Regions from separate parts of the Homo sapiens genome. Here region 2 is reported to be linked to region 1. Evidence: microRNA targets listed by miRTarBase, many of them from high-throughput screens and not tested one by one. Region 1 holds a microRNA gene; the other region holds the end of a gene's coding sequence.

Region 1 (4,652 bases):
CAGTGCAGATGGGTGATTTCTTTCCACTTCCACATTATTTGACGTATCAGCTGGAAGACTTGAGGGCTGACTGGTTTGAATTATCTAAAGAATTGATTGGGGATGAAGAAGCTGCTTCTAATGTTATTTCACATGGCTGGAGAATCGGTGCTTACTGTTGGCAGTCAGCCTGAGTTTTTTCTCCATATGATCTTCTCTACATGGCTACTTGAGTGTCCTCAGAACACGGTAGCTAACTCCTCCCAAAATGAGAAAAATGGAAGACCAGAGAGGAGGCTGTAAACTTTTTAATGACCTAATTCTTACATCACACACTTTCACTTCAACAATATTCTATCTGTCATATATGTAAGTCCTATTAATTGTGGGATGGAATTAGATAGGAGTGTGAATACCAGGAGCCAATGTTTACTAGGAAAATATTGAATGTTGGTTACTACAGAGACTATGGTGGATTTGTATCATGCCAAATGAACTAAACTGGAATTGCATTCCCCAGAATTCCCCTCCAAGCATAGTTCTTTGGTATTAGTCCATTTTCACACTGACGATAAAGACATACCTGAGACTAGGCAATTTACAAAAGAAAGAAGTTTAACATGGACCTACAGTTCCATGTGGCTGGGGAAGCCTCACAATCACGGCAGAAGGAGCAAGTCATGTCTTACATGGATGGCTGCAGGCAAAGAAAGAGAGCACTTGTGCAGGGAAACTCCCCCTTGTAATACCATCAGATCTCATGAGACCCACCCAACACCATGGGAAAGACCTGCCCCCGTGATCCAGTTACTTTCCACCAGGTCCCTCACGTAACACTCGGGAATTCAAGATAAGATTTGGGTGGGGACACAGCCAAACCATATCATCTTTGTTAGTGAGGGCCATGAGAGATATTTTGTATGAGAGTTGGAAGGATGAAATGAAACAGCATCTATATTCTTTTTATTTTCAGAAAGTCAGCACTGGGCACATGGCACTGTTGTAGCTCACACAGGTGTCATTTATCTGTGGGATCACATTGTTGGAGTAGGGCAGTAGCTGGGCCCTCAGAAATGCCACAGCTGCCAGACACCCACTTTCAATCACTCTGACTTTCAGTGAGGTATGGTTTAGCTCATAGCAGCTCCTCCTGCAGATTACCCCAACTTTAAAGTTGGACACATGGAAGCAGGGTTGCAACTCTGTCCTGATAGATTCGGGTTTATTCTTGCAGGTACCAGTTTGTCTCGCTTCCCTCATTTTACGTCCATTTTATCTTTCAGACTGTGTGCGCTGATGACTTTAGGCTCAGCACTAGACACAGAAACAATAGTTTCACAAAGACTTTTCAACAGTTTCCACAAATATATAAGGCAAATCCCTATTACAAATCCCTTATTATACACAAATCTGGTGGTACTGCTTCTCAGATCAGACTCTGACATAGAGACTATAAAATAAGTAGCTTTAAATTGAATGAAGCAGGAAAGAGGAAATCAATTACTATAAGAGATAAGGTGACATAAAAAGCAGATATATTTGAAAAGAGGCCAAATAGAAGTTATAAAATGAAAAATATATTAAATAAGAAAAACCTTCTAATATATAGATTTATATATATATAATATATATAAATCCTGAACAGGATATGGGTGGCTTTGACAAAATTCCACATAAACAGTAGTTCAGATAAGATAGATGTTTATTTCTCTTTCTTTTTTTTTTTTTTTTTTGAGACAGAGTCTCGCTCGTCGCCCAGGCTGGAGTGCAGTGATGCATCTTGGCTCACTGCAAGCTCCGCCTTCCGGGTTCACGCCATTCTCCTGCCTCAGCCTCCGGAGTAGCTGGGACTACAGGTGCCCGACACCACGCCCAGCTAATTTTTTGTACTTTTGTTAGAGACGGGGTTTCACCGTGTTAGCCAGGATGGTCTCGACCTCCTGACCTCATGATCCGCCTGCCTCTGCCTCCCAAAGTGCTGGGATTACAGGCGTGAGCCACCACGCCCGGCCTATTTCTCTTTCATAAATTGTAAGCATTTCAGGACTTCGATGATAGATAAGACATTTCCACATTGTCAACAAACCAGATCCTTTATTGTAACTTCCTCAATTAGCTTTTTAATCAGAGTCCAGCTTGGATGCTCCACATCTGCCATGTCTGCACCCCCACAGTGAAGGTGTTACTAGGTTGGTGCAAAAGTAATCACGGTTTTTGCCACTGAGAGTAATGGCAAAAACAGTGATTACTTTTGCACCAACCTAATAGTTTAGGCTGCTGTCACAAACTACTATAGGCTGGTGGCTTAAACAACAAACAGTTGTTTCTCATAGTGCTGGAGGCTAGGAAGTTCAAGATAAAGGTGCTGGCAGATTATGTGTCTGTTGAGGCTCACTTCTTGGTTTATAGACTACCAAGATCTTATTTTCATATGAAGGGAAGAGAGCTAGCTACTCTATGGCCTCTTCTCATAAGAGCACTAATCCCATCCATGAGAGCACTAACAGTATTACTTCATCGACTCTGAAAGGTACCACCTCCAAACACTATCACATTGAGATGAGGGATTACGGTTTCAACATATGAATTTAGGGGGCCACAAACATACATTCCATTGTAGTGGGAAAGAAGAATGGGAAGACCTACTCTTTTCCTTTTAAAACTGTGATCCAAATGTTGTACATCAATTTCACGTATATACCATTTAACTGACCCAAAGTAGCTGCAAAAAGTGCTGAAAAATGTTATATTTAGGTAAATGGACACATATTCAGCTAAAAATAGCATTACTACACGAAATATATGGATATTGAGAAAGCAAATAATAGACTCCGACACGATGATTAAAAAGCAGATAATTCTCAACAGGCAATTAACAGAGAGAAAGAGCTGAGGATTTTACAGTTACTAAAAGCAAGTTTAAGAGATAAATAAGATAATAGATTAAAATGGGATAGATTCAATGAAAGAATAAGAGGGAATGAGATGGTAATGATGATTTTTTCAAAATCAATAGCATGAACCTAATATTTGAGAAGCACACTGGATCTGCTGCAAAATAAGATGAAATTACACACACACGCACAGACACACACACACACATACACACACACACACACACACACACACACACAGTGCTAAAACCAAAACCAAACACCCAAGACATAAAGATCTTCAGAATCAACATAAATAACTTATGAGGAAAACTACTAGCTTCTTTATAAAATCTACATTTCAATGCACTGCTGTGGTTGCAGGGAAATAAGTAAATCTCCAAGCACCCCTTAAATAAACAACCTAATAAACATGCAAAAAATGACCTGAATCCTGAGATAGAATCAAAGAACAGTGCGCTACCTGCAAGACACAAATGGGAAAGTTGGAGCTAGCCTGAGACAAGTGTTGAAATTAGCATTGTGTTCCAGAGACTAAGCTTGAGGGAGCTGATCCTGGAAACCTGGCATTATGTCAGCAAGCCTGGTCCCAGGTCTTACTACATCAAACTCCTAGCAGAGATAATTTCAAATTCTACCCTGGAGAAAAAGTTGACCCTAGGATACCTAAAGATTAAGATTAAAGAAATCAAGCCATGGTGAGTGAGACAGCAGAAACAACAAATAGCAAACATCTAATTAAGACTCCCAATGGCTTCAGATATAGAAATTATCAGAAATTGAATGTAAAATGCTATATATGAAATGTTTAAATAAATAATAGGTGAAATTACAAAATCAGTAAACACGAAAATGTCAAGAATGAACAGACACAGAATTTTACTTCTGGCCATGCTGATTAACAGAGACAGGAGCTTTCCTAACATTATAAATATCTGGAAAACTTGGAAAATGTATGAGTCAAATTCTTTCAGATATAGGAGATTAGGCAATTTAGGATTATGGTCCAAGGGAAGTGGAAACAAAGTGAGCTCTATTAACTGCCTGGAACTACTTTCCAACCTGTGGTGCAGAGGGGGTCACTAGCATGATCTCACTGAGTTGAGTAAACAGAGATCAGAGTTAGGGAAGACTGACTTACCTGGAATATTGAATGTGTAGGACACATTACCAGTGAGAAGGAAAGTAGGTGAAGGAGGAGCTCCAGGAATATGCACAGGGGTCTCCTTGAGAATGTTCTAGGTACTAAGTTGTACATGCATGGGAAAAGTCAAAGGGCTGGGAGCTTTAAGCTGAAGGACTCCCAGAGCTCAGGTAGGGCGGGGAAATGTTTACTTCTGAACCAACCAGAATAGATTGAACATCTACAACATTCAGTGGAAACATGAGAAGGTTCAGGCCTTAGTATAAGTGCTAAAGTAGTCCCGAGGTAAAGAATTCTCTAAGTCCAGCCTAAAAAGCTTAAAAGCAAACCTCTAAAGAATCACACTGATCCACAATTACATACTTACTTAGCCAAATGAAATTGACATTTGTAAAAGGATGGCAACAAAATCCAAACACTCAACAATATAGCTCTCATAGTTTGGGGCCAAATTTAAAATTACTGTATATGAGAAGAAGCAGGAAAATGTGAGCCATGACCATGAGAAGAATCAGTGAAGAGAAACAGAAACTGAAAGAATTGGTGGATTTATATGAGTAGGGCTTCACAAAAGCTGTTTTAAATGTGTTCAAAAATTTTAAAAGAAACATGAATAAAAATAGATATGGAAGGTA
Region 2 (4,304 bases), not on the chromosome of region 1:
TCCAGCTGTTTGGGCTAAACTCTCTCCCATTCCACGTGTCATTGGTAAGCCCTGTCAGCTCTAGCTCTGAACTATTTCCAGAATATGCCCACAACTAATCATATCCCTTGCTAGTACCCTAGCCCAAGCCAGCATCGCCTGGTGACTGCACTGTTGCCACAGCCATCTCTCTAGTCTTCCTGCTTCTACCTCTGCCCATCTGCAGTCTATTCTGCACATAGCAGCCAGAATGATCCTTTAAAAAAATTATTTTTATTGTGGTAAAACATATATAACATAAAATTTACCATTTTAAAGTACACAATTCATTGGCATTAAGTACATTCACAATGCTGTATAACCACCACAACGGAACTTTTGTTATAGAGCTTTTCTTCATCGCTATGAAGGAGTAATCCTTTTAAACATAAGTCACAGCATGTCACTACCCTGCCCGCAAACATTCAGTGGCTTCCCATCTTGCTCAGCAAGGGACAAAGTCCTGCCGTGGCCCACAGAGCTTTTGGCTGTCCTCTCTGAACGCTCTCTTCACTCATTTCACCCGGTCATTGGCTTCCTTGCTGTCCCTTTGACAAAGTGACCCTGCTTCTCCTTCAGGGTCTCTGCATGTGTTTTTTCCTTTGCTGGAATGCTCTTTTCCTTGGATATCCATTGTATCCTCACTTCATTCAGATCTCTCCTCAGATATCACCTTATTAGAGTGATAGCTAAGATAGCCCTGTCCACATTACTCACTGTATCCGTTTTGTTCTTCATGGCACTAATCATCACCCAACGTAGACAAGTACATCTTCCTCCACTCAAATGTAGGAGCCTCATGGGAACAGGGACCACATCTGCCTTGATAGCTGCGGTGTCCTCTAAAACAGTGCCTAGCCCAGAGTGGGCATGCAATAAATATTTGCTGAACAAAGAAATATCCTGGGTCATGATAGGTATCCAAATATTAATTGATCTCAAACAAATGCATTGAAAACTTTAAAAACTAGTTTCATTGAGATACAATGAACATACCCTAATACTCACCTATGGACACGAATTTTTTGTTGTTAAGGCAGGCATCAGGAAGCACGTGTAAGCTATTGATGTAAGCAGCCTGGAGGTACGCTTATTCTTTCCAGAATTCTACAGTTCACTGAAAAGATCATTGTTTGTTAGGACTTAGAACCAGAAGAGCCTTGAGACCTAACTCTGGATGTTCACGCATGTGTGTGATGCCTACAATTAATTACAGGCATCTTTATTTCACAGTAACATCGGCACATTTTCTTAACATCTCACCGATGTTAGATGGGTTAGAGGTGGGAATGACATTCACGTGCCTCTAAAAATGTGCAGTGCCTTTTCTAAAACACTATATTTGGAGACTATAATTTTAATCAAGTGATGTCTAAGTTACAGAGCGCCTGTCTGGATTGCTTTATTCTGCAGGTGGATACAAAGTGTATCATGTTTCAGTGCTAGAAAACAGTGAGACACAAGGAGGCATCTTTCTTATCACTGAGGCATCTGTTAAATATCTACCCTTTCCTTTGGTACTTCTACTTCTTTGTATCCCTGGGGAAGGCAATTAACATTAATGCTTCTGTAACAGAGGCACAGAGCAATAGCCGACAAGATTTGACTGGTAGATCTAAAGTTATTGCTGGGCTCTGCTGGCGTGGGGCTGCATCCTACACAATTTTTCCCATCTCCACTTAAAGTAGAGGAGGTGAAGAGATAGAGGAAAAGTAGAAGAAACCTTTCACATTAATACATCTCCTTTTAAAAATAAAATTGAGAAAAACACAGACCACTGCTTCCTATGTTAATATCTTGGATTGTAATGTACTGTTGAAATCCTTTTTTTTTTTCCTTCCCTTTTTAAGAGTAAACCATCACGGTGGTTCTCTGCTGGGTAAGAAGCCATGGTAGAAAACTCAGTTCATGACGAATCTGTTCTTTCTACTGTGGCTCCCAACAAAACTCTCTGAAAGTTGTCTACTGTGGTTAGCCACAGAAACCTTTATTTTATGATATTTTTCAGAGAGATCATGATTCAGTTGTTTCTACAAATCATAGCAAATCATCTTTCAGGCAAGTTGAAAAAAATAAATCATCAGAAAAATATGTTTTCAGCAGTCCAGAAAATTATTAAAATCTAGTAGTTGCATCTGTAGCAACTACTAGGATTTAAAAAAAATCCTAGGTTAGGCTCTCTTCTATAGAATACTCCTAGAATATTACTGCCAATGATTCAGTAGCCATATGCTAGTAAAGCAAGCTATATTTGTTGGTCCATGTAAAATATGAGTAGAAAGACGGCATAAATGAGATTGTTACATGTTTCTCCCTGTGTTCCTGGGGGATAGGTGTTGGTGACAGAATTACAACTCTACTACTTTTTCCTGCTCACTATAGAATTAACTTCCAAATTTGAAGGATGACAACCTAATTATAGGTTATGGAGAATTAGAGCTCTCACTTTTTTCTGATTTTTCTCTTTGGTTGATTACAGAGAATTGGTTGAAGCTCACAGTTTTGATGCCAACTTCCAAAGAGATAATACTTACCTCCAGCTTCACAGGGCCATGCATGGCATGACCCCCACGGGTGCCATTCAGATCATACATGCGAGGGGTGCCCCTTGGGGTTATTACTTTGGCAACCCACATGCAAAACTTCATGTGTGCCCAGGACAAACATTTTCATTAACCAGAAATAAAGTCCATGGTCAACGTGTATTTTGTCTTTTTTTTTTTTTTTAGTCTAAAGAAAGTTCTGAACAGAATATCAATTAAGCTTACATCACAAAAACTTTAAATGTATTTACAGAGTGAATAAGTTACATAGATAAACTCTGAATATGTTTCTGCAGTGCAACAAGTTCACATGCACACATCTAACACTTGACAGCATTAAGTTTAAGGAGAGAACTTAAGAATGGCCCTTTACATATATATTACACATAAAATATGACATCGAAGAAACAAAGTAACAACTCATATTTTACCTTTATGATTCTACTTCTGACTATCCAAACAGATATTAAAATATGCATGCCTGACAGGTGAAAAGACTTGGAATTTATCTTGTGAATAGTTTTCTCTACAAAACGGCAAAGTTAATTAAAATTAACACTCATCCTTCAGCAGTATAAATATGCTCATAAAAGCAACCTTCTAGTAAAAAGCAGCCAAGATCCTTAAAAAGAGTCTATCTGGACCATTTTTGGTGCAAAGAGATCCAGGGCTTTCAGAAACAGTAGCCTAGCAACATAAGAAAGGTACTTCATAGCAGCTCCTTTTAGATACAGTAATTGTATTCAAATTACAGTGTACATTACATTGCAGTCCATTTACAATTCCCTTTTCACATACACAGGCTGTCAGCTTTTGACCATCTTACAGTTTTCAGTGGCCAGCTTCATTTTGCCTGCCCCTTTCTCAGCCCACGAAAGAAAGGAAAAAGAAAAAAGAAAAAAGAAAAGAAAATGGAACAAGACAGGGAAAGAATATACATGTTTGAGAATATAAAATTTTTTGAGTGAAGAAAACATTGCACTTTTGCCAATCTAAAATTGTTTCTAGAAAGGAAGGTACTGTTCAGTGTAGTCGGCTTTGGTATGCAACGGAAGTCACTTCTTCAGTAGCGAGTTGCATATGCTCGGTCAAATGTAACACATTTGTGCCACACAGCATGATGAGTGGAGTCTGTCCAGGACGTTCTAAGCTACCTTGGTTCTTATAGTATTGCTACACGTTGGAAGTTCTGCCATCCTCTTTAGAAAAAGCCCTACAGGTAACAAGAGGGAGAACAGTCTGTCCAAGCCTTTTGAAGGCCGAGAAGACACTGAATGACGTTGCCCCAGCATGGCAGCACTGCCAGTTTGGAACCCAGTGGGGACAGGAGGCTCCTGTCAGAGACTAGTGCCAGAAACACTGGAGTCTGGAAGAAAAGTAGTGAGGACTCGGTAACTCTGGGCCCTGCGGATCATGTCCCGGATCTCCATGTTCAGCTCCATCAGCTTGGTGCAGATCTCGGTCAGGCTCTGGTTAGACCCCACCAGGGCATAAGTACCCGTCTGTCCCAGAGTTTGGTGACGGAAATAAATATTCAGTAGTGTCTGGACCTCATCATCAGAACTGCTTCCAAAGATGTCATTGGGCCACAGACTTCTGCAGTCAAAAAGAACAGCACAGATTAGAGGCACTATTAGTCACAAAGTTGGGAGCTTATGAGTCTTCATTAATATAAGAGTATTACTTTTTAAAAAGGCTTTATTGAGATGGAATTCCTGTATCAGGTAATTCACTCATCTAAGG

Evidence for each region. Region 1 holds the annotated microRNA hsa-miR-548y (AAAAGUAAUCACUGUUUUUGCC, at 2,211-2,232, opposite strand). A microRNA usually pairs through its seed, bases 2 to 8, with sites in the 3' UTR of a target mRNA and lowers its output. Matches are read on the target gene's strand: a 7mer-m8 pairs with bases 2 to 8, a 7mer-A1 pairs with bases 2 to 7 and ends in A, and an 8mer does both.
Region 2: the mRNA of FRY is a reported target of hsa-miR-548y. Seed matches in the 3' UTR shown: 7mer-m8 at 2,971-2,977, 7mer-A1 at 1,699-1,705 and 7mer-A1 at 293-299.

The regions. Positions count from the first base shown.
Region 1 is chr14:47,758,851-47,763,502 of GRCh38, forward strand. MIR548Y (microRNA 548y) reads right to left here and starts at 2,254; the gene lies at 2,145-2,254.
Region 2 is chr13:32,295,055-32,299,358 of GRCh38, reverse strand. FRY (FRY microtubule binding protein) reads right to left here. Exons shown (of 61, transcript NM_023037.3): 61 at 234-4,157. The coding sequence ends at 3,899. Among named protein-coding and RNA genes, the nearest start is that of ZAR1L, 18 kb to the left of the region's middle.